2 linked regions of the Homo sapiens genome follow. The protein of the gene in region 1 purifies or fractionates together with the protein of each later gene. This does not show direct contact. Each region holds a gene or a part of one and is shown in the gene's direction. Other genes may lie near its edges. The genes, in order: CPT1A and MTCH2.

Region 1 (8,577 bases):
GCAACCTCCGCCTCCCAGGTTCAAGCAGTTCTCCTGCCTCAACCTCTCCAGTAGCTGGGAGTGCGCCACCATGCCTAGTAGAGACAGGGTTTCACCATGTTGGCCAGGCTGGTCTCAAACTCCTGACCTCAAGTGATCCACCCACCTTGGCCTCCCAAAGTTCTGGGATTACAGGCATGAACCATATGCCTGGCCAGGATTAGCCTTTCTTACGGGGCTGTGGGCATATTTATTAATTTAGGAAACAGAACAAATGGAAACCAAGGCCCCTGTGTTAGGGTTACATTTCCTTGCCTCAGTGAAAAAGAATCAGGCCGGGCGCAGTGGCTCACGCCTATAATTCCATTGCTTTAGGAGACCAAGGCAGGAGGGTCACTTGAGCCTAGGGGTTTGAGATGTGCCTGGGCAACAGAGTGAGACCCCATCTCTACCAAAAAATTAGCCAGGCTTGGTGGTGCGTGCCTGTAGTCCAAGCTATTCAGGAGGCTAAGGCAGGAGGATTGCTTGAGCCCAGGAAGTTGAGGTTGCAGTAAGCCATGATCAAGGCACTGCACTCCAGCCTGGGTGACAGAGTGAGACTGTGTCTCAAAACATAAAAAAGAAAGCGAATCAGCCCGAGCTTGGTTTTCTCGCAGGTGTGGTGTGTATTGTATAGGAGGGTTTCTCACCTCAGAGCTGTGCACACTCAGGGCCGGGTACCTCTTTGTGGGGGGCACTGCCCTGTGTAGCGTTGGATGCTGAGCAGCAGCCCTGGCCTCTGCCCACCGACTGCCAGCAGCAACCTGTGTGACAACCAGAAGTGTCGCAGACATTGCCCAGCATCAGGGGGACACTGTTGTCCCCAGCTGAGAGCTGCTGCGTTCCAGCAGTGTGACAACTGCTACGCTATCGCTGGGAGTAAGGCGGGAGGGGCAGGTGTTGGGGCCCCTTCTGCAAAGATCAGGAGAGGTTCTGTGCTGCGTGGAGGGGCCGCAGGTGGGCTGTGTCTTGCAGAGGGTGGGAGCAGACCAGGAGGACAGTGGGTGTCCAGGGGGTGGAGCCGCATGCCCCGGGGTAGCAGAGCAGGCAGGAGCCGTGGAGTGGGCTGGGCAGCTGGGCCACGGTGCCAAGCTGGGGAGGGTCCCAGGCACCCAATCATATTTGAGCTTGATTCTGCAACTGGGTGCCGCTTCAGGTGGTGTAGGGTGGGGTGGGGCCGGGGGTGCATGAGTAGGTTAATGTGGGAGATTCTTCTGGTTGGGCAGGGAGGAGGGGCCCTGGACACAGGGATGCTTTTCGGTGGCCCAAGTAGTGAGGGCCTGAAAGAGGGCCAGGCCTGGGAGCAGGAGCGGGATGGAGGAGGATGTGTGCGGGCAAGCCGGCGTTGTTCGGTATCTGCTGTGGTGTTGACAAGGCTGGAAAGAGCGGCGGCAGGAGATGCATCTCGGGTGAAGATGCGCTCATCCGATGCCCTCCTCTCAGAGCCTGGAATCCCCAGCGGAGGAGACGTGGGGAGCCTGAGCCGGCGCCGCGGGGCCTGGGCTCCCTGTGGGTCTGTAGGCGCCTCGGTCCCGATGCCCCCTCTGGATAGGGCCAGATCAGCATCTTACCCATGGGAGTCATTCACAGGAAGGGCTCCGTACGTGCCGGCCACCGTCAGCGTCACCTTTGTTCCCCGAGCGGGGTGCACTGAGGCCTAGCGTGTTTCTAGGCTTATTCGCCCTGCGGGCCGCCATAGCCAAGCACTCCTAGAGAGAAGAAGGTGGGGAGAGAGCCAGATGGCCCCGATCTGGAAGGGTGGGCAGTGGCAGAGGGTCCTGGAGGAGCTGGAGTGAGAGGGACCCGGGAGCACTCGAGGAAGCCCAGCTGGTGGGTCTTCCAAGAAGGAAGTGGGCATCACACCAGTTCTGTGTATTCAAATAAGACGGGCACGGAGACCTCCTTGTGGAGGGGTCACATGGGCATCTGTGGAATGCACCTGGGGGCTGATGGCCTGGGTTCCGACTCTGCCTCAAAATAGCTGTGACCTAATCTTTCCGTGCTTCAGTTTTCTCATCTGAAAAATAGGTACAGTAGCATTGAGAAGATCAGTAAGTTGGTACACAGAAAAGGTTTGGAGCAGAGCCTGGCATGAGGGACGCACTCTTACGCACTTACTGTGACCTGGGCTGCCGGAACTTACCTAGGGTGGTTCCTGTAGAGGGGAGGGAGGGTGTGTCAGGGAGCGTGGAACAGGGTGATCTGGGTCTGCTGCTTCCTGGCGGCTTTGCCCACGGGGCCAGCCTGCAATCTGGCCGTTCATTTAGTCAGCATTTATTGAACAAAAAATACCCACCGCTCCCCATGCTGTGGTCTGGAGACCAGGAGCAGGTGAGAGTCCTTCCAGCAAACAGTCTCAGATGGGGAACATCATCAACATGGAGTTTTCCTTCGAGAAATTCTGAAAAACTGCAAAGGTTTGATTGTGTCATTTCAAACATCACGCTCCATCGCTGCAGGTCGGGCTGCCTTTAATCGTATTTCATCTTCACTGCAGAGTTCCCTGGGCCAGGTGTCGTCAGGCCTATTTTGGACGTGGGAAAAATAAGCAGTCTCTTGATGCTGTGGAGAAAGCAGCGTTCTTTGTGACGTTAGATGAAACTGAAGAAGGATACAGAAGTGAAGACCCGGATACGTCAATGGACAGCTACGCCAAATCTCTACTACACGGCCGATGTTACGACAGGTACCGTCCTTACCTTCTGAGAGACAGGAGTTTGCCCATGAGCTTGGAAGAAATACCCTGTGTGCCTGACACTCACCCCTAAGTATCTATAATGCTAAGAAAGAAGGTGGCATAAAAATATAACCTTCAGTTTTATTTTATTTTATTTTTTGAAATGGAGTCTTGCTCTGTCACCCAGGCTGGAGTGCAGTGGCTTGATCTCGGCTCACTGCAACCTCCACCTCCCAGGTTCAAGCGATTCTCCTCCTTCAGCCTCCCAAGTAGCTGGGATTACAGGCGTGTGCCACCACGCCTGGCTAATTTTTGTATTTTTAGTAGAGACAGGATTTCACCATGTTGGCCAGGCTGGTTATGAACTCCTGATCTCAAGTGATCCACCCACCTCAGCCTCTCAAAGTGCTGAGATTACAGATGTGAGCCACTGCGCCTGGCCAACCTTCAGTTTTCTTCCCTCTGCCAAAACTATCACACATACACAGCCTGAGCTGCAAATCTGAGATTCTTCCCTCCTCTGTGCATGACCACCTTTGTTTGGAGATGCTCATGAGATGCAGGGCTGCCAGGTCCCTGGACTCAGGCAGGGGAGAGTGGCAAACAGGGCTAGGCACAGGGTTAGGCCAGGGTGTTGGCATGTGGCTATCTCAAGTCCTCTTTTTCTTATCTGTAAAGTGTTGGCCAGCCCCGCCCCCTGCAGGGTGGAGCCAAGGATTGGCTGATGAAGGGGTCATGTGCCCACGGGAAGAGCCTCCCACCTCTCCCCAGTTGCCTTGCGATAACAACAGGTCCTGACTTCAGGCTGCCAGGATATAAGCGCTCATCTTTGTGTCTGGGACAGGGAAGAAATGAGTGATTCAGTGTCCTGTTTGTACTTTCACCCTCACTCCACAGAGACTGAGTGTCTGCTCACTGTTAGAGGGACAGGTGCAAAGTGAATTAGTCCATCCAGGATGAAGCAGAGAGGTGCAATGTCTCCTCATTGTTGCCTCTTTAAACACTTAAGTTCCACACATGTGTGTTTCACGTAGGTGGTTTGACAAGTCGTTCACGTTTGTTGTCTTCAAAAACGGGAAGATGGGCCTCAACGCTGAACACTCCTGGGCAGATGCGCCGATCGTGGCCCACCTTTGGGAGGTGAGTTTTCACACTTTTCACTTGAATGTGGAAGTTGCTTTTGAAAATCCAAACCTGGCCAGGCGCAGTGGCGCACACCTGTAATCCCAGCACTTTGGGAGGCCGAGGCGGGCAGATCACCTGAGGTCAGGAGTTCAAGACCAGCCTGGCCAACATGGTGAAACCCCGTCTCTACTAAAAATACAAAAATTAGCCGGGCATGGTGGTGCATGCCTGTAGCCCCAGCTACTTGGGAGGCTGAGGCAGAAGAAATCGATTGAACCCGGGAGACAGAGGTTGCAGTGAGCCGAGATCGTGCCACTGCACTCCGGCCTGGGCGACAGAGCGAGACTCTGTCTCAAAAAGAAAAAACAAAAAAGATAATCCAAACCCCACAGTCAATTTAGTTTTGTAATATTTGCGTGATTATAGAATATGAATTTTTCACTTGTACTAGTAATGCACATGAAGTTAAATCACTAGATTAAAGGCATCCCTGTCTTCCTTTCCCATAACTTAGGTCCCTTGAACAGCAGTGCATCTCCTGCCATCTCCTTAGGGAACAAAAGAGTGAAATGGCAGTTGACTCTCAGGCCGCAGCTTCACAGCAGAAGTGAAGCTCGGTTTTTCCTGGAATAAACTATCCCTTATGTGCTGGATTTCCTAGTGTTTCCTACCTACCGCATTTTTTAGGCCAAATAGAAGCAAGCATGTGAAAATCTGGGTTTATAAACATGCAGCGTGTCTTTTACCTAAGACATCATTTTAATTCTTAAAATTACCAGGTTATTTGAAAACCACAAACCCCTGTCCCCCTGCCTGCACCTGTGGATTGGCCTCTACCATTGTTTTTTTTTTTTTTTTTGAGACAGGGTCTTACTCTGTCACCCAGACTGGAGTGCAGTGGCACAATCATAGCTCACTGTAGCCTTGACCGCCCAGGCTCAAGACATTCTCCCACCCCAGCCTCCCAAGTAGCTGGGACTACAGGTGTGTGCCACCATGCCCAGCTAATTTTTGTATTTTTTGTAGAAACAAGGTTTCCCCATGTTGCCCAGGCTGGTCTTGAACTCCTGGGCACAGGGGATCTGCCTGCCTGGGCCTCCCAAAGTGCTGGGATTACAGATGGGAGCCACCACACTCAGCCTTTTTTTTTTTTTTTTTTTTTTAATAATTCGTTACTCTGAACTGTTTGACCTGTTCCGTGTTTGGCATGAGAAATTAAATGAAAGTTTTGTTTCCTTAACTCACCGGTCAGGTTCTTGTTTAAAGTTGCTAAATTCTAGGATCATCATCCGTAGACTTGACACAGAAAATACTGTGGTCACTTGTTGTGATGAGACTTGAGATCTTTTTCTTTTAAAGCAACAAGCCCCTTTGAGATTCACATTGACTATAAAGACCATCTTTTTGCAGTGTTTTAAATTTTCCTGCTGGCCTAATAAATGAAGTGGAATAAAATGACCTGAAAGTCACGGCGTGTGTGGGAGACAGGGCCCAGCTGCAGGCTGAGCACCTCGCTGTTCTTGATAGGGCATGGAGCCGGGTTTGTGTGTCTGAAATTAGAAATTAGTAGTGGCCAGGCGCGGTGGCTCACGCCTGTAATCCCAGCCCTTTGGGAGGCCGAGGCAGGCGGATCACGAGGTCAGGAGAACGAGACCATCCTGGCTAACACGGTGAAACCCCGTCTCTACTAAAAATACAAAAATTAGCCGGGCGTGGTGGCTGGCACCTGTAGTCCCAGCTACTCAGGAGGCTGAGGCAGGAGAATGGCGTGAACCCGGGAGGCAGAGCTTGCAGTGAGCCGAGATCACGCCACTGCACTCCAGCCTGGACGAAAGAGTGAGACTCCATCTCAAAAAAAAAAGAAAGAAATTAGTAGTAAACTTGTGAAGACATCATAATGTATGACCTTCTTTTTTCTTTAAACTTCTGTGAATGTTTTGAATTTTGACTTTTTTTTTTGAGATGGCGTCTTGTTCTGTCACCCAGGCTGGTGTGCAGTGGTGCGATTTCAGCTCACTGCCACCTCTGCCTCCCCGGTTCAAGTGATTCTCCTGCCTCAGCCTCCCGAGTAGCTGGGATTATAGGCACATGCCACCATGCCCGGATAATTTTTATATATATATAAACCTGACCTCAAGTGATCCACCCGCCTTGGCCTCTCAAAGTGCTGGGATTATGGCATGAGCCACCACGCCTGGCCTTGACGTTTCTTTTTATAATATTGTGTCTGTCTATTTTTCCCCCAAGAGATAAACAAATTCTGGTGCCAGTTTTTTCTTGCAAAGTCTTCGCACTCACTCTCCTCTCTGCCTGGAAGGCTTTTCCCCCTGGCTTCCCCTGGCTCCTGGCCCCGTCAGGTCTTCCTTAGGTCTCAGCTGACCTCACTTCCCCTAGGAATGGCACTGCCCTGCTACCCTCTCCCAAGACTAGGTTAGGGGCTCCTGTCTCATCTTCCTCTACCTCTTTTAATTGTCTTACTTCTGGTTGGAGTCTTGGCAAAACCTCCAGCCACTCCTTCAGCCAAGGGAGGTTTTCTATGTAGGAAAAAGGATAAAAAGGAAAAAAAAAAACATAGTGCTCTAGGCTTTAAGACACCAGTATGACCCTAGGACATTAATACCTGATAAAAAGCAGCCAATATTAAAAGGGCTTTTCACCACCACCAGGGTTCTTTGGCGATGTCGACAAAAGCTGAGAGAGCCTTTTAGCTACAGAGCGCATTGAAGATCAAGCTGCCTTCAGTGTCTCTGGACGTAGCAAGAAGGCACGCTTTAATAAATCTCTGCACAGCATAATAGCCCGGGCTTGTTATACCCCAGGCCAAGGACTTCCCGAGTCCTATATGCCTAAGAGCTGTTGTTTGGCAAAAGAAAAAGAGTCGGGACCATAGGCAGCTGGATCACACAGGGTACATTTATCAAGTAGAGAAATCTACTGGATATTTACAAGATCAGGCTTGTTTTTTAAAGTTCTCTGGATAAGGATAAAGGGATTTTATCTTAGACCAGGGTGGGCACGTAGAAGTAGTGGTGTTTAGTTGTTAGCGTCCAGCAGACAGGATGGCCTGACTCCAGGGACCCCTGGCTGGGGGCTTATGTGATCCATACACAGATGGGGACTGACCTAGTCTCACATGGGGGCCCAGTGCAGTCCCTTAAAGACAGATCTAGTCAAACTTGAGTCTGTTTGTTCTTGTTCTTGTTCTATTTTTATTTTTTATTTTTTGAGACAGGGTCTTGCTCTGCCACCCAGGCTGGAGGGCAGTGGTGCAATCTCAGCTCACTGCAACCTCCAACTCCTGGGTTCAAGTAATTTTCCCACCTCAGCCTCCCGAGTAGCTGGGACCACAGGTGTGCGCCACCACGCCCAGCTGATTTTTGTATTTTTTGTAGAGACGGGGTTTTGCCACATTGCCCAGGCTGGTCTCGAACTCCTGGCTTCAAACAATCTGCCTGCCTCAGCCTCCCAACATGCTGGGATTACTAACATGAGCCACCACACCCGGTCTTGCTCTTGATTTATTTCTGATGTTTCTGTGTCAGGCTCTTCTGGAGCTCTGACCCAGAGCAGGTGGAACCTGATCAAGTCTGTTCGTTCGCTGGCTCAGGTCAGCCTGGATTGTGACCCCCACGTATTAGCGGCACCTTCCACCCGCCCCGCCGCCTCGCCAGCCGACAGTCACCCCGACCTTGTGTTGTTGTTTTTACCTCCCTCACTAGAATGTAAGCTTCCTGAGCACAGGGATTCCTCTTTTAAAAAAACTTAATTTTTTTAGTTGAGATATAAGTCACATACCTTAAAATCCACCCTTTAAAAGTGTACAATTCAGTGGTTTTTAGTATATTCACGAGGTGCTTGTGCAACAGTCACTGCTTAGCCTCCCGAGTAGCTGGGATTACAGGCGTGCATCGCCACACCCACCTAATTTTTGTATTTTTGGTAGAGGCGGGGTTTCCCCTTGTTGGCCAGCTTGGTCTCGAACTCCTGACCTAAAGTGATCTACCCGCCTTGGCCTCCCAAAGTGCTAGGATTACAGTCGTGAGTCACAGAGCCCAGCCTAATTCTGTACTATTTTTATCACCTCCAAAAGAAATCCCTCATTCCTTTCTCCCCCAGGTTCCTGATGACCACTAATCTTTCTGTGTGTATGTATGTGCCTATTTTGGACATCTTATATAGATAGAATCATACAATATGTGGTCTTCTATGTCTGGCTTCTTTTTTCTTTTCTTTCGCTTTCTTTTCTTTCTTTTCTAGAGACAGGGTCTTGCTCTGTCGCTCAGGCTGGAGTGCAGTGGCACAGTCATGACTCATTGAAACCATGACCTCCTGGGCTCAGGTGATCTTCCCACCTCAGCCTCCTCAGTAACTGGGACTACAGCCATGTGCCACCACACCTGGCTAATTTTTAAAATTTCTTGTAGAGATAAGATCTCACTATGTTGCCCAGCTGGTTTGGAACTCCTGGCCTCCAGCAATCCTCCCACCTTGGCCTCCCAAAGTGCTGGGATTACTGAAGTGAGGCACCGCGCCTGCCTGCTTCTTTTCACTCAGCATAATGTTTTCAAGGTTCAGTACGTTGTAACACATACCTGGAATTCATTCCTTTCTAGGGCTGGATAATATCTCATTGTATGGATTGACCACACTTTGTTTATCTCTTCATCAGTTGATGGGCATTTGTGTTGTTTCCACTCTTTGGCTATTATGAATAATGCTGCTCTGAACATTCTGTACAAGTTTTTGTGTGAGCATCT
Region 2 (16,056 bases), about 21 Mb from region 1:
ATAATTTCACTTAATGCTCATAATAACCCTGAGAGATACACAGTAGTGTTAGATTTAGATACAAAAACTGGAAATTAAAGTAGCTAAAATGACAAATGGATGCAGTGGAAAAGCCAGGATCCAAATCCAAGTCTTTCCCCTACAGTACTTCACTCTGCTCCAAGCTCAGATTCACCAAATGTTGTTTGATAGAACACGTGAGCTGGGGCTGAAGGAGCAGGGACAATGCCTTTTTCACTTTTGCCTCTGATAGCCTGTAGACTGGTAGGCACTGAAGTATTTGTTCACTTGTGCAATAAATATTTATTGAGCACCTCGTATGTGCTGGGCACTGAAAACACAACCGTGAACAGAGGCTGTCACGGTTCCTGAACTCATGGAGCTTTCATTCCAGTGGAGGAGACATAATTTCAGTGATAATGCTACGACGGGGCACAATGTGGGAGAAAATAAGAGGGAGGTGGCCAGGCGCGATGGCTCCTCACTCCTGTAATCCCAGCACTTTGGGAGGCCAAGGCGGGTGAATCACGAGGTCAGGAGTTTGAGACCAGCCCGGCCAACATCGTGAAACCCCGTCTCTACTAAATAGACAAAAATTAGCCGGGCGTGGTGGCGTGTGCGTGTAATCCCAGCTACTAGGGAGGCTGAGGCAGGAGCATTGCTTGAACCTGGGAGGCGAAGGTTGCAGTGAGCTGAGATCGGGCCACTGCACTCCAGCCTGGGTGACAGAGCGAGACTCCGTCTCAAAAAAAAAAAAAAAAAGAAAGAAAAAGAAAAGGGGGAGGTAATTTTAGAATGGTCAGAGAAGGTTTTTTTGAAAAGATAACATTAATCAAACGAATAAATGAATGAAAAGCCACTCGCTAGCGGATTCATTATTTGCTATACTTATTTAGAGTTTGTCAGTCACGAGACTGTTACGGCTCTGATGCTGAGTATCTTTTGAATCCTATGTTGATGATGCCCAAAAGGCAAGTGCAGAGATGAAGCATAATGAAGAATCCTTTTCAATTTCTTTTCAGTCCTCTGACCTTGCCTCTGCCGTCACGGTCACACTCCCCCACTGACACTCCCATTCTTCTGTTTCCGGACACTTGCGGCCTGGAAGCGCATGTGCAAGAGAAACCGTCATTCCTGGTGAAGGGCGAGCCCCCGGCAGAACGCATGCGCCTCTGTCCCTTAAGCCCCGCCCCGACCTCAGCGCCCCCTCGCGAGCGCCTGCCGTTTCTCGGGGCGGGACGGGGGGGCGGGGACTGGGCGGAGAGGCGCGTGCTGCTGCGTGCGTGCGCGCGCGCCGCGGGCGGGCCAGTGAAACCGGCGGCCCTGGCACGTGACCTAGGACCGGCTCACCGGGTCGCTTGGTGGCTCCGTCTGTCTGTCCGTCCGCCCGCGGGTGCCATCATGGCGGACGCGGCCAGTCAGGTGCTCCTGGGCTCCGGTCTCACCATCCTGTCCCAGCCGCTCATGTACGTGAAAGTGCTCATCCAGGTATGAGGCGTCGCCGCTCCCTACCCCGCCCGGCGCCCCGTTCGGTCGCTGCTGCTCAGGGCGCCTGAGGATCGGCTCAGCCTTGCGGGCCTTTCATTCTCCCGAGATGCTGCTGCTCCTCCGCTGCCCTTTACCTCCCCGCAGGGACAGCTTCCTCAGTCCCGCGGCCCCGCTTGGGGGCCTCGCCGAGCCCTCGCCTCGCCGCCCAGCGTTGAGGCCCTCTCCTCCCTTAGCCAACCGCCACCCGGCCCTGCCCTGCCCGGCGGATCCTCTGAACTTTGGTTCTTCGTCACTGAGGTGGATCCTGGCCGGTCGCCACCAAAGGCTTCCGAACCCTCCCTCTCGCCCCTCCGAAATTCACATTCACCACTACTCCCCCCAAAATCTCAGACGCAAAACACGAAATACTCAGTTGAAGACAAATGTGAAGTTAGGTGGGAACCAACATTTTATTTTTTATTCCTTTTTTTTTTCTTTTTATGCTACTGTTACTACTGCTTTTCTGTTCCGAGGTTTTCGCACCAGATACTGAGAGAAACACAAGGAGCTCATTCAGAAGTGTTAATGAAGGGGTTGCTCTGTCAGATTTCGGAAGGATGCATTGAGCGCTTTCCAGCAGCGGCCCATGTGGCTCCTGACAATGAAAATCACATTTGTCAGAGCTGGAAATTAGTGAAGCTGAGTTTTAGCGAGTTTAAACATGGGAGTTAGTTTCTAATCTACTGTCAAATAATTATTACATGGTATTTTATATTCACATGCAGGTAGGCCAAGTAAGTGATAGACTTAGTGTTTCCAGTTCCTTTGCTATATCCCTGTAATGGGCAGGTCATTCTTTTTTTTATGCTTTTACTGAGAGTTGACATAATTACCTCATGCACTGTGCCTAGGAATGGAACAGTTTTTAGAACCCCTGTCTCGCCGTCTACTTTTCTGTAAAAAATAGGCAAGACACTAGAGAGGGCCCCATTTCTTATTCTTGAGTTGTTGGGAATCCAAATTATTTCTTGCTGAGTAGACCTGTGTGAATTCAGATTCCATATGTTAAAGGCTATTGCAAATAAATTCTTTGTACTTAGAACAAAGACTGATTAGAATGTACTGTAACATCCAAAACAGAATTGGCACATTTGGGGCTAGATAGCATCGGAGGTGACAGCATGTTGCAGTATATAGTAAGAACCCTTGGGGCCGGGCGCGTTCGCTCACGCCTTCCCAGCACTTTGGGAGGCCGAGGTGAGCGGATCACGAGGTCGATGTTTGAGACCAGTCTGACCAACATGGTGAAACCCCGTCTCTACTAAAAATACAAAATATAGCCAGGTGTGGTGGTGCGTGCACGTAATCCCAGCTAGTCGGGAGGCTGAGGCAGGAGAATCGCTTGAACCCGGGAGGTGAAGGTTGCAGTGAGCCGAGATCGCGCCATTGTACTCCAGCCTGGGCAACAGAGCAAAACTCAGCCTCAAAAAAACAAAACAAAACAAAAAAGAACCCACTACTCAATACTTCTCTGGGAGACGGGGTTTTCTAATGATGTTCAGAGCTCTTGCCCCAAAAACTTTGAATATTCTTAATTCTGATTTCACAACATCTATGTGTTGCCAAGTAGCCCAGGAGTTTTGGTGAAATTCCCAAATGCTCAGTTGTAAAAATAGTTACTTGGGCCGGGCACGGTGGCTCACGCCTGTAAATCCCAACACTTTGGGAGCCTGAAACAGGCGGTTCACCTGAGGTCAGGAGTTAAAGACTAGCCTGGCCAACATGGCAAAACCCCCTCTCTACTAAAAATACAAAAATTAGCTGGGTGTGGTGGTGGGTGCCTGTAATCCCAGCTACTCAGGAGGCTGAGGTACGAGAATGGCTTAAACCTGGGAGATGGAGGTTGCAGTGACCTAGATCGTGCCACTGCACTCCAGCCTGGGCGACAAGAGCGAAACTCTGTCTCCAAAAAATAAATAAGTAACTAAATAAAAATAAAAATGGTTACTTGGTAGCACTTTCAGGGAGCTCAGACAGGAGTTATTTGTTTATTTATTTGTTGTTGTTTTTGAGATGGAGTTTTGCTCTTGTCACCCAGACTGGCATGCAATGGCACAATCTCGGCTCACTGCAACCTCCGCCTCCCAGGTTCAAGCGACTGTCCTGCCTTAGCCTCTTGAGTAGCTGGGATTACAGGTGTCCGCCACCACACCTGGCTAATTTTTGTGTTTTTAGTAGAGACAGGGTTTCACCATGTTGGCCAGGCTGGTCTTGAACTCCTGACCTCAGGTGATCCGCCCACCTTGGCCTCCCAAAGTGCTGGGATTACATGCATGAGCCACCACGCCAGCCCAGGAGTTACTTAATAGGACAGATTAAGAGTCACAACAATAATCAAAACTATGTCCTACAGCATTCATTCTGTCAAGTATCTGTAGTGTTAAAAATCCTGGGTATATTGTACAAAGACCATGGTAATCATTAACTATATAAAATGGACTTCATTAGCTGTTAATGACAGCCTGTGTTTTTTTGTTTGTTCGTTTGTTTGTTTGTTTTTGAGATGGAGTCTCGCTGTTGTCGGCCTCGGCTGGAGTGCAGTGACACAATCTCGGCTCACTGCAACCTCTGCCTCCCGGGTTCAAGTGATTCTCCTGCCTCAGCCTCCCAAGTAGCTGAGATTACAGGCGCCCGCCCCTACGCCCGGCTAATTTTTTAGTTCTAGTAGAGACAGGGTTTCACCATGTTGGCCAGACTGGTCTCGAACTCCTGACCTCAGGTGATCCATCCCCCTCGGTCTCCCAAAGTACTGGGATTACAAGGCATGAGCCACTGCGCCCGACCGACAGCCTGTTCTTCTAACATGAAGTTAGCTTGTAATTCTTTCCTAAGTGAATTATCCAGCTATATCTGCATTTGCCTTTTGAGTGTTTTGTCTGGGTTGCCAAATATGCAGCTGATGCTGGCGTAATGGATGTCTTCTAGTTTTGTTCAAATACAAAATGTGCCTTAGATTTTATTTAGAAGGTATTTTTGAGCCCCCTTAGTAAACTGTAGCTTTCCTAACGCAAAAGTTCCCTTCTTTCAGTTTGATATTAGCCTATTTCAGCTACATGGTTTACGTCATAGAATTTGAACCAAAATGAAACTTGGAGTTTATTGAACTCAGTATTACCAACAGAAGAAAAACCTACAAGAATGATGCTTCATCATTGCCTTGGAAAACCTATGCTGCATTTTTACTTGTGTTTAAAAATAACCCAAATTGTGTTCTTTATTCAAGACCTTGCAAGCAAGACATTTCTGGAAATATTGCTTTAATATTGATATATTCCATTGTTTTTAAAGGTGGGATATGAGCCTCTTCCTCCAACAATAGGACGAAATATTTTTGGGCGGCAAGTGTGTCAGCTTCCTGGTCTCTTTAGTTATGGTAAGTGCCTTTGATTTATTTGGGTTTGCATGACGTTGAGGACTGTGATAGGCAGGAGTTGTTATTGAAAGAAAATATATAGAAAGCTTGTTTCTTTGAAATTGTAGTATATCCATTTCTCTTGACCAGAACTTGACAACATCTCTGACTTGTGTTCTTAGCTCAGCACATTGCCAGTATCGATGGGAGGCGCGGGTTGTTCACAGGCTTAACTCCAAGACTGTGTTCGGGAGTCCTTGGAACTGTGGTCCATGGTAAAGTTTTACAGGTAAGAGGAAAATTAAATCAATCTTCCCATAGATGTTGCTTACCTGTTATGCATAGTTTGTTCTAAATATCAAGAGCAATTTAAAAGATACATTTATAACCCTGTCCTTTCTTCCTCTTGAAAAACACTTTCTTTTTTTTTTTTTTTTTTTTTGAGATGGAGTCTCACTCTGTCGCCCAGGCTGGAGTGTAGTGGCGCGATCTGGGCTCACTGCAAACTCCGCCTGCCGGGTTCACGTCATTCTCCTGCCTCAGCCTGAGTAGCTAGGACTACAGGCTCCCGCCACTGCGCCCGGCTAATTTTTTGTATTTTTAGTAGAGACAGGGTTTCACCGTGTTCTCAATATCCTGACCTCGTGATCCGCCCGCCTCGGCCTCCCAAAGTGCTGGGATTACAAGCATGAGCCACCGCGCCCGGCGGGACTCAGTGAAATTGTTGCTGTTACTTCCATGAAATTTACATATGGAAAGGCAGTTGTCATCTAGCCAAAGAGGTTTGTGTATAGACTTAGAGAAAAAGAGAAAGTGCTGCTTGAGACTAAGTTACTTTATGTAACTGTAAAGTAAGACAAACTTGAGGTAACCAGGTACCCTGAATATGTTCCAAATGTAGTCCAGTGAAATATTACAGGGTTGGTACTACACTTAGCATCCAAAGCTGCTTGTACAGTCAAGAAGAAGGATCTATGCAGGGCTGAGAAAATTATTAACCTTTACAAGAAATAATTTTGTAAACTGAACAAGAATTAAAATGAAATTCAGGAAATGTAGAAGACAGGTTAGATAATTATATCGATGGAGTAAATAACAAAGTATAGAAACAAGTGAAAATTTAGAGACCTGAAGCTATTAGAATTAATTCTAGCCAAGGACCTGGAATTTGGCCAAAATACATTACTTTGCTTTATCTTCACATTTGTTCTCTTGCCCGTGATTTTTTTAAACACAATTCTTTTTACAAGAGAAAATGTTGTCTATTTTTGAAATCTGATATGGCTAGAAAATAATAAAACTGACATTAAAAAATAAGAAAACAATAAAACTGGTGGTTACACAAGAAGGAGCTCTCAATTGATAATTTTATTTTCACCTAGCTCACATTCTATTTCCAAAATACGCCACAAAAAATTCCTCTTGCAAGAATTTTTCTCTGGGCTCTGGCAGTATTCATGATCTCTTCTCTAGAAGAGAAAAAAAAAACCTCTTGCTTGTTTTAGAAACCATCAGATACAAAGGAGAAAGTGAGGCGATTTCAGCTCTTCAGTCTTAATATCAATTCTCTGTCCTTTTATGCAGGGAAGAAAAGAGTCTTGCCCTAATTTGGTATTGGTCATGCGTTTTCCATGAGAAAAGTGGGAACCCTGGGCTATGTTTTTACTGACTTATTTTCTGTTAAAACTGAAAGTTCTTGGCCAGGCGCAGTGGCTCATGCCTGTAATCCCAGCACTTTGGGAGGCTGAGGCGGGTGGATCAGCCGAGGTCAGCAGTTTGAGACCAGCCTGGCCAACATGGTGAAACACTGTCTCTACTAAAAATACAGATGTTAGCCAGGCGTGGTGGTGGGCGCATGTAATCCCAGCTACTCAGGAGGCTGAGGCAGGAGAATCGCTTGAATCTGGGAGGTAGAGGTTGTAGTGAGCTGAGATTGAACCATTGCACTCCAGCAGTGAGCCGAGATTGCACCATTGCACTCCAGCTGGGTGACAAGAGTGAAACTCCATCTAAAAAAAAAAAAAAACAGAGTTCTTGAATTTTCTTTTTTGTTGTTGTTCTTATTTTGTAATTATTTCTTTAAATTTATTATTATTTTTTTAGAGACAAAGTCTCACTATGTTGCCCAGTCTGGTCTTGAATTCCTGGGCTCAAGCAGTCCTCCCTCTTCGGCCTTCCAAAGTGTTGGGATTACAGGCGTGAGTCACTGCGCATGTTCCCTTTTCGTTTTTTGGGTTTTTTTGTTGTTTTTTTTTGAGACAGAGTTTCACTCTTGTTGCCCAGGCTGGAGTGCAATGGCATGGTCTCGGCTCACTGCAGCTTCCACCTACCGGGTTCAAGCAATTCTCCTGCCCCAGCTTCCCACGTAGCTGGGATTACAGGCACCTACCACCACGCCCAGCTAATTTTTGTATTTTTAGTAGAGAGGGGGTTTCGCCATGTCAGCCAGGCTGTTCTCAAACTCCTGACGTCAGGTGATCCGCCTGCCTCAGCCACGCAAAGTGCTGGGATTACAGGCGTGAGGCACCATGCCCGGCCCCTTTTCTTTTTTTCTGAGATGGAGTCTTGCTCTGTTGCCCAGGCTGGAGTGCAGTGATGTGATCTCAGCTCACTGCAGTCTTTACCCCCCGGGTTCAAGCAATTCTCCTGTCTCAGCTTCCCAAGTAGCTGGGATTACAGGCGCCCGCCACCAAGCCCAGCTAATTTTTGTACTTTTAGTAGAGATGGAGTTTCACCACGTAGGCCAGGCTGGTCTCAAATTCCTAACCTCAGGTGATCCACCTGCCTTGGCCTCCCAAAGTGCTGAGATTATAGGCGTGAGCTACCGCACCCAGCCTTCCCTTTTCTTTTTTTTTTTCTTGAGACGGACTCTTGCTCTGTCACCTGGGCTGCAGTGCAGTGGCGTGATCTTGGCTCACTGCAACCTCTGCCTCCTGGGTTCAAGTGATTCTCCTGCCCCAGCCTCCCTAAGAGCTGGGATTAAAAGCGTGCGCCCCAATGCTCCGCTAATTTTTGTATTTTTAGTAGAGATGGGGTTTCACCATGTTGGCCAGGCTAGACTTGAACTCCTGACCTCAGGTGATCTGCCCACCTCGGCCTCCTAAAGTGCTGGGATTACAGGCATGAGCAACCACACCTGTCCCCTTTTCTTTTTTCAAAGAAGAGTTTTCATGACCATTTGCTTTTCTTCCAACTGACCAATATGTTAAACTTAGCAACAAGTTTATCTTGGAGATCCATATTTCCAGTTGATTAATGAGTAGAAGTTAACTGAAGATTTGCAGCTTAAAAAAAAAAACAAAAACTTTAAAAAAAACTTCAGCTAATTTACTTTCTGTCAGTAGAGTTTTCATTTTATGTCTTCTTTCACATGACACTGTAATAACCCTAATCATCCTTTTTCTTTTTTTCTATAGCATTACCAGGAGAGTGACAAGGGTGAGGTATGTTGGAGCTGATTTCTAAGCATGAGGGCCTTTCCCTTGCAAGTTGTTACTGCTTTTGGGGCCTCTTTTGGAGAAAAGCCAAGTAGTCAGTCTCCTATTCATCTCAGTGAGTGTTGTCCTATGGGGTGGCCACCAGTTTGGACAGTTCTGTTTGAAACCATCAGGATGGCTGGGCATGGTGGCTCATGCCTGTAATCCTAGCAGTTTCGGAGGCCAAGGTGGGAGGATCACTTGCATCTAAGAGTTTGAGACCAGCCTGGGCAACATAGACCCCTTCTCTACAGAAAATCAAAGATTAGCGGGGCCTGGTGGCACATACCTCTGTATCTCAGCTACATGGGAGGTTGAGGTGAGAGGATCACTTGAGTCCAGGACGTCAAGACTGCAGTGATCCATGATCACATCACTGCACTCCGCGTGAGTGACAGAGCGAGACCCTATCTCAAAAGAAATAAAAACCGTCAAGATCGGCCGCCCATGGTGGCTCATGCCTGTAATCCCAGCACTTTGGGAGGCCGAGGCAGGTGGAGATCACGAGGTCAGGAAATCGAGACCATCCTGGCTAACACGGTGAAACCCCGTCTCTACTAAAAATACAAAAATTAGCAGGGCGTGGTGGCGAGCACCTGTAATCCTAGCTACTTGGGAGGCTGAGGCAGGAGAAGCACTTGTACCCAGGCGGTGGAGCTTGCAGTGAGCCGAGATTGTGCCACTGCACTCCAGCCTGGGCGACAGAGCGAGACTCTGTCTCAAAAAAAAAAAAAAAAAAAAATCAAGATCTCTATTTTCTTTGATTTTGATTTCCAGGAGTTAGGACCTGGAAATGTACAGAAAGAAGTCTCATCTTCCTTTGACCACGTTATCAAGGAGGTAAGAGATGAATTACATCCTGTGCTGTTTGCCCAGATCAAACTGTGGTGTTGCAACTATGGAATCAGAATCATCAGGCCTGTGTGTTCAGTGTCTGTTCCCAAATGAAATTAAACCTTCAAATTAATTTGGGCTTTACTACATGTATAACATTAAAAAGAGAGAGGATCAGTGCTTGCTGTTCAGAATAGATGCATTTCAAGAAAACTCATTTTGCCCACACATTCCGTCTTTAGAATACTGAAAGTCTTCTAATAGTGTTGAAAACCTCAGGAATAAAAGTGTTAAAATAGGCCAGGTGTGGTGGCTCACGCCTGTAATCCCAGCACTTTGGGAGGCCAAGGCAGGAAGATCACTTGACCCCAGGAGTTAGAGACCAGCCTATGCAACATAGTGAGACTTCCTCTCTACAAAAAAAATAGAAAAATTAGCTAGGTGTGTGGTGGCACATATCTGTAGTCCCAGGTACTCGAGAGGCTGCGGTGAGAAGATGACTTAAGCCCAGGAAGTTGAGGCTGCAGTGAGCTATGATTGTGCCACCATACTCCAGCCTGTGTGATAGAGCAAGACCTTGTCTTTAGAAAAAAGTATTAAAATAGCGACCAGGCCCTTTGTATGTTGGATAGTATCTATGCAGAAAGGCTCTTTTGACATTTTTCTGACTCTGAAAAGTTCCTCATCACCCATTTCCCACCCCCATATGCTGCCATAGGTGTTTCTGTGCCTGGCTTTCAGAACTATTCTCTTATTACTTAAGTCTTCACATTGTCTTAATTGTCATTAATGAAGTCACAATTATCCAGGAAATGCAGCCATCCAAAATACATATTCCAAAGGCTGGGCGCAGTGGCTCATGCCTGTAATCCCAGCACTTTGAGAGGCCGAGGCGGGCGGATCACCTGAGGTTGGGAGTTGGAGACCAGCCTGACCAACATGGAGAAACCCCGTCTCTACTAAAAATACAAAAATTAGCCAGGCATGGTGGCGCATGTCTGTAATCCCAGCTACTTGGGGGGCTGAGGCAGGAGAATGGCTTGAACCCGGGAGGCAGAGGTTGTAATGAGCCAAGATTGCACCATTGCACTCTAGCCTGGGCCACAGGAGTGAGACTCCATCTCAAGAAAAAAAAAAAAAAAAAAAAAAAATATATATATATATATATATATTCCAAAACAAACATTACTAAAGGTCTGGAAACCAGATAAATTAGCTCTATTTTCTGTAAATTTTCATGAAATTAGTTTGCTTAAAAGCAGGGATACGGCCGGGCGTGGTGGCTTACACCTGTAATCCCAACACCTTGGGAGGCCGAGGCGGGCAGATCACGAAGTCAGGAGATTGAGACCACCCTGGCTAACACGGTGAAACCCCGTCTCTACGAAAAATACAAAAAAATTAGCTGGGCATGGTGGCAGGCGCCTGTAGTCCCAGCTACTCGGGAGGCTGAGGCAAGAGCATGGCGTGAACCTGGGAGGTGGAGCTTGCAGTGAGCCAAGACTGCGCCACTGCACTCCAGCCTGGGAGACAGCGAGACTCCCTCTCAAAAAAAAAAAAAAAGCAGGGATACATGTATTACTATGCAATTAGTATTTTCCTTAGTTTGCCCATCCAGTCCCATAGGATCTTATGCCCTTGGAGAAGGGGTGAGGGCTGTCTTAAAACTCAGTGACTAGGCCGGGTGTGGTGGCTCACACCTATAATCCCAGCACTTTGGGAGGCTGAGGCGGGCAGATCACGAGGTCAGGCATTCAAAACCAGCTTGGCCAACATGGCGAAATCCCATCTCTACTAAAAATACAAAAAAAATTAACTGGGCATGGTGGTGTGTGCCTGTAATCCCAGCTACTCAGGAGGCTGAGGCGGGAGAATCACTTGAACCTGGGAGGTGGAGGTTGCAGCAAGCTGAGATCGCACCACTGCACTCCAGCCCGGGCAACAGAGCAAGACTCTGTCTCAAAAAAAAAGAAAAGAAAAAACTCAGTGACCATAAAGATACTGTTTAAATGCAAAAGCCGGCCAGGCACGGTGGCTCATGCCTGTAATCCCAGCAGTTTGGGAGGCCGAGGCGGGCGGATCATGAGGTCAGGAGATCGAGACCATCCTGGCTAACACGGTGAAACCGTCTCTACTAAAAAATACAAAGAAAAAAAATTAGCCGGGCATGATGGCGGGTGCCTGTAGTCCCAGCTACTTGGGAGGCTGAGGCAGGAGAATGGCGTGAACCCGGGAGGCGGAGCTTGCAGTGAACCGAGTTCGCGCCACTGCACTCCAGCGTGGGTGACAGAGCAAGACTGTCCTAAAAAAAAAAAAAAAATGCAAAAGCCAATGGTAGACCTGCTTACATTTGCAATCCCAGAACCTAAATGCAAAGATTATAATTTAATTTTCTTTATTACTTCCTTACAGAGCCCTAGAGTAGAAAGATAAACTAGGAAAAACACAGCAGCTCTAAGATACTGCACAGTTACTGGGTTGTAGTCACAAAACAAAATTGTTCTCTTCTCCCAAAAATGTGAGTAGAGACTAAATGGAGCCTGTCATTTATCTAGAATGATGTCAGACTCTCCAAAATCACTTACCAATAAGAGAGCAACTTAATAATCTCAATAAAGGCCTCATATTTTTTATTTCAGCTTAATGACTTTGTTGGTGACCTTTCCTGTTTCTTTATTTTTTTCTCTTACCTGTAAAATTGAGAAAACAACAGAAGCCTGCTTTGCAGAGAAATTTTGAGAAGTAACTATAATAGAACATTGAGATCCATGAGTGAAAAGTATGATAAAATGACAATGAATGAGATCTTTCACATCCCATTCAAACTCTTCTTGACTCCAGCCAGGGCAGGAGGGCTGTGTCATTCACTTTCTTATCCTATACCACGATATCCACCCACATTCCTTCTCACAGGCATTTGAGTGTCATTTGTTTAGATTTCAGAAGTGTGTGTTGATTGTTTCTAGACAACTCGAGAGATGATCGCTCGTTCTGCTGCTACCCTCATCACACATCCCTTCCATGGTATGTTTGCAGTTGACAACTGACCTTTCTTTTATAACCTGATCTCTCCTGACCACTTAGATAGGTTGACGTGGGAGTTGACTAAAATGCCTTGCCTGCATGTTTTTGTTTGCTTGCTTGTTTTGGCTTTTATCCAATTTATCCAGATAGCAAAATGTCTTTAGGTGGAAAATCTTTTTTTTTCCCAGGGCTATCAAAATCTATCTTAACATAGTTTTTTTTTGTTTGTTTGTTTTTTGTTTTTGAGACGGAGTTTCACTCTTGTTGCCCAGGCTGGAGTGCAATGGCACAATCTTGGCTCACTGCAACCTCAGCCTTCCGGGTTCAAGCAGTACTCCTGTCTCAGCCTCCTAAGGAGCTGGGATTACAGGTGCATGCCACCACGCCTGGATAATTTTTGTATTTTTAGTAGAGATGGGGCTTCATCATATTGGTCAGGCTAGTCTTGAACTCCTGACCTCAGGTGATCCGCCCACCTCGGCCTCTCAAAGTGCTGGGATTACAGGTGTGAGCCACCGCACCTGGCCTTAACATAGTTGTAAACATCTTTTCTCTATATTCCACAGTGATCACTCTGAGATCTATGGTACAGTTCATTGGCAGAGAATCCAAGTACTGGTAAGTATTTTTGTTTTCACATACTCAAGGAGATCTTTTGAAGCCAAAGTACTAGAATAATACTACTTTGTATTTTTATGATACCCTTACAATTTGTAGAACAAATTCGTATCTGATGTCATTTGATCTGCACAAAAAACAATAAAATGGGAGAAAATATACCCAGGCAGGTTTAGTAGCCTACGTAGGATTTCAGAGTAAGTTGCAGAGCCCCTGACTCCATATGACTATACCCCTAGGTAGTTAATATTTTCACTTCTATCTCCAAATTTAGCTATCTTTGCAGAGTGAGAGAGTGCTAGAAAAGTGTGAGGGAAGGAGGTCGTGGATTTGACCTTGTCCAATGTGATAATTGAAATTATTTTGTTTATAGCTCCAAAAGAATCTTAATATATTTTACCTTTTCTTCTTGTGTACGTAGTGGACTTTGTGATTCCATAATAACCATCTATCGGGAAGAGGGCATTCTAGGATTTTTCGCGTGAGTAAATGTTGATTAGTGTGTAATTTTTGCATGAGTGGGAAACGTTTTCTGAAAGTAAGAATAGTGAGTCTTTGTTTAATCCTTGGGGAAAACGTACTCCCTGGGCTTACCTCACGTTACATTCTATTTAGGCCCCTTATTTTTTTTTCTTTTTTCTCTGCAGAAAGGCATATTTAGGCCCCATATGACTAGAATTATCTTGTAAAGATCCCAAACCTTTACTTCTAGATACTTAAAACATTTGAGGCCGGGCGTGGTGGCTCACGCCTGTAATCCCAGCACTTTGAGAGGCCAAGGCGGTTGGATCACCTGAGGTCAGGAGTTCAAGACCAGCCTGGCCAACATGGTAAAACCCCACCTCTAGGTGTGGTGGTGTGTGCCTGTAATCCCAGCTACTCGGGAGGCTGAGGCAGGAGAATTGCATGAACCCGGGAGGTGGAAGTTGCAGTGAGCTGAGATTGCACCACTGTACTCCAGCCCGGGTGACAGAGTGAGACTCCGTCTCAAAAAAATAATAATAATTAATAAATAAATAAGGAATTTCTTTTTTTAACAAAGGACTTAATTCCAAGTTTCTACCCTTGTAGTAAACTCCCAATTCTATATAGATAATAAAATGAGAAAAATTAAATGTTGAAAAATGGGGAAATCATCTTAACTTGTATTTTCCTTACCGTAAAAGAGTAAGTTTTTGCAAGGCTTGAATTTACTTTGGAAGAACTTAGACTACTACCCTCATTCTTCTATGAGGAAAAATTTTGCATCATTACCGAAATGGTGTTTTTTGTTTTTTTTTTTTTAATTTTCAGAGTATCTCCCCATACGGATTTTGAATATCATAAATACCCTGTGAGATAGGCAGGACAGCTATAATTAGTATCACTTTAGAGATTAAAAAACATTGATGCTCTGAGAGTTTCATCTGCTGCCTGTCACATCGCTGCTGAGTGCTGGAGCTGGCATTTGAAGCTGGTCTTCAATCCGTGGGGAAATGCTCTTCCCACTATTCCATGCTGCCTCACCTAGGTCACCCAGACCCTAGAAATGTGGTTTTTGATGCCTCTCATCTGTATCTGTACTTGGGACCATTCTTGCTTTGTAATTTTTCTCGTCTTTTGCTCTGCCAAATATGAATATCAGATAGCTTAGCAAAATCATTTTTTTAAGCTAGTCAAAGCAAAACAATATTTAAGTCTCTTCTGCAAAGCACCTCGCAAATCTTTTGCCTCCCTGCTTACAGTTATGAATAGTAAGGTGAGCCACTGAGGGTATAGCCGACCTGCATTTTAAACATAGGAACAAAAGTCACTGGAGATCAGCTTCAAGTACAGCTGTGTTAACGAGAATGAACTAGGTATGCGGGCTGGATTCTGGTGTTTGATTCCTTTTTTACTTCCCTAGAATGTTTTGTGACCTCTAATTATTTGACAAACATTTGTACTGAAGAGCCTGTCATGTTACTGATCACATTTTTTGGTTCTTATTTTTATTGTTTCTTCATGTAGGGGTCTTGTTCCTCGCCTTCTAGGTGACATCCTTTCTTTGTGGCTGTGTAACTCACTGGCCTACCTCGTCAATACCTATGCACTGGACAGTGGGGTAGGTTGTGACCTTCGTGAGATGTGCTCACCTTGGCTTTAATCTGGCAGCTAGATTAGCTTTTAAAGTAAGATGGGCCGGGCGAGGTGGCTCACACCTGTAATCCCAGCACTTTGGGAGGCCAATGTGGGCGGATCACCTGAGATCAAGAGTTCGAGACCAGCCTGGCCAACATGGTGAAACCTCGTCTCTACTAAAAATACAGAAAAAATTAGCTGGGCGTGGTGGTGCGTGCCTATAGTCCCAGCTACTTGGGAGGCTGAGGCAGGGGAATTGCTTGAACCCAGGAGGCGGAGGTTGCAGTGAGCCAAGATCGCGCCACTGCATTCCAGCCTGGGTGACAGAAGGAGACTCCATTTCAAAAAATAAATAATAAATAAATAAACAAGATGACAGTTTGCTACATGCCAGACTGAACAATTATATAGCTAAAAATTATCAGTCAAATTTTCAAATGCTAATGAAATGAGCATACTGTTCACTGTAGAACGATACTGTTTACTGTAGAACGATACACGTTAAAAGTCCGTAAGATGTGACAGAGTATACCCAAGAGACTTAGCCCTGTGTTACTTCAGGGCTTTAAAGAGATCACTTCTTTACTGATACTTAACTTGAGAGAACCTGGGAAAGCAGGACATCTTTATGGTGTATCGGGGGCTTTTCATCTAATCTGGACTTAAGAGGGTGCCTGTATTGGGCTTTCTAGAAACCTCAGCCTTTTGAGAATCAGTCTTATCTAGAAGTTGTCTTTCTTATCTCAGCAGTTGTGGGGCCTCTTGTATGTCGGCAGCTCCATAGCATGATGATAAATTGAACACATCACAGGGTATATGACTAAATCCATGTTGTAAACCTCTTGAGTACAGAGAGGGATTTTCTTCAACGCATCTGGTAGAAAGCTAGCTGTGTAAAACAAAGGTAGTGAATTGTCCCTTAGATATACTATAAATGTGGTTTTCCAGGGACTGTATTTCTAGGATGTGTGAAAAGGTTATCAATCTCATTTTCTTTAGTATTTGAAATCCTTTTACATTCGTCCCTAAAGCATTTTAGTATAATATGAATTTGTCTGTTAATATTGAATCAGGTTGATCATTTTGACCACTGCCTTATTATTCTAATAATCAGTGTTTTATGGT

Evidence for each region.
Region 2: the proteins of CPT1A (region 1) and MTCH2 purify together in Homo sapiens (affinity purification with mass spectrometry; 2 studies listed by BioGRID and IntAct, with this or other methods). This does not show direct contact.

Annotation. Positions count from the first base shown.
Region 1 is NC_000011.10:68,775,898-68,784,474, reverse strand, and holds part of CPT1A (carnitine O-palmitoyltransferase 1, liver isoform), read left to right. Parts: intron 1-2,515; coding exon 2,516-2,704; intron 2,705-3,729; coding exon 3,730-3,835; intron 3,836-8,577. UniProt on the Homo sapiens protein: Catalyzes the transfer of the acyl group of long-chain fatty acid-CoA conjugates onto carnitine, an essential step for the mitochondrial uptake of long-chain fatty acids and their subsequent beta-oxidation in the mitochondrion.
Region 2 is NC_000011.10:47,627,811-47,643,866, reverse strand, and holds the start of MTCH2 (mitochondrial carrier homolog 2), read left to right. Parts: upstream 1-1,307; 5' UTR 1,308-1,401; coding exon 1,402-1,488; intron 1,489-4,815; coding exon 4,816-4,900; intron 4,901-5,061; coding exon 5,062-5,168; intron 5,169-8,295; coding exon 8,296-8,322; intron 8,323-9,132; coding exon 9,133-9,195; intron 9,196-12,155; coding exon 12,156-12,213; intron 12,214-12,779; coding exon 12,780-12,831; intron 12,832-13,252; coding exon 13,253-13,312; intron 13,313-14,820; coding exon 14,821-14,914; intron 14,915-16,056. UniProt on the Homo sapiens protein: Protein insertase that mediates insertion of transmembrane proteins into the mitochondrial outer membrane. Catalyzes insertion of proteins with alpha-helical transmembrane regions, such as signal-anchored, tail-anchored and multi-pass membrane proteins.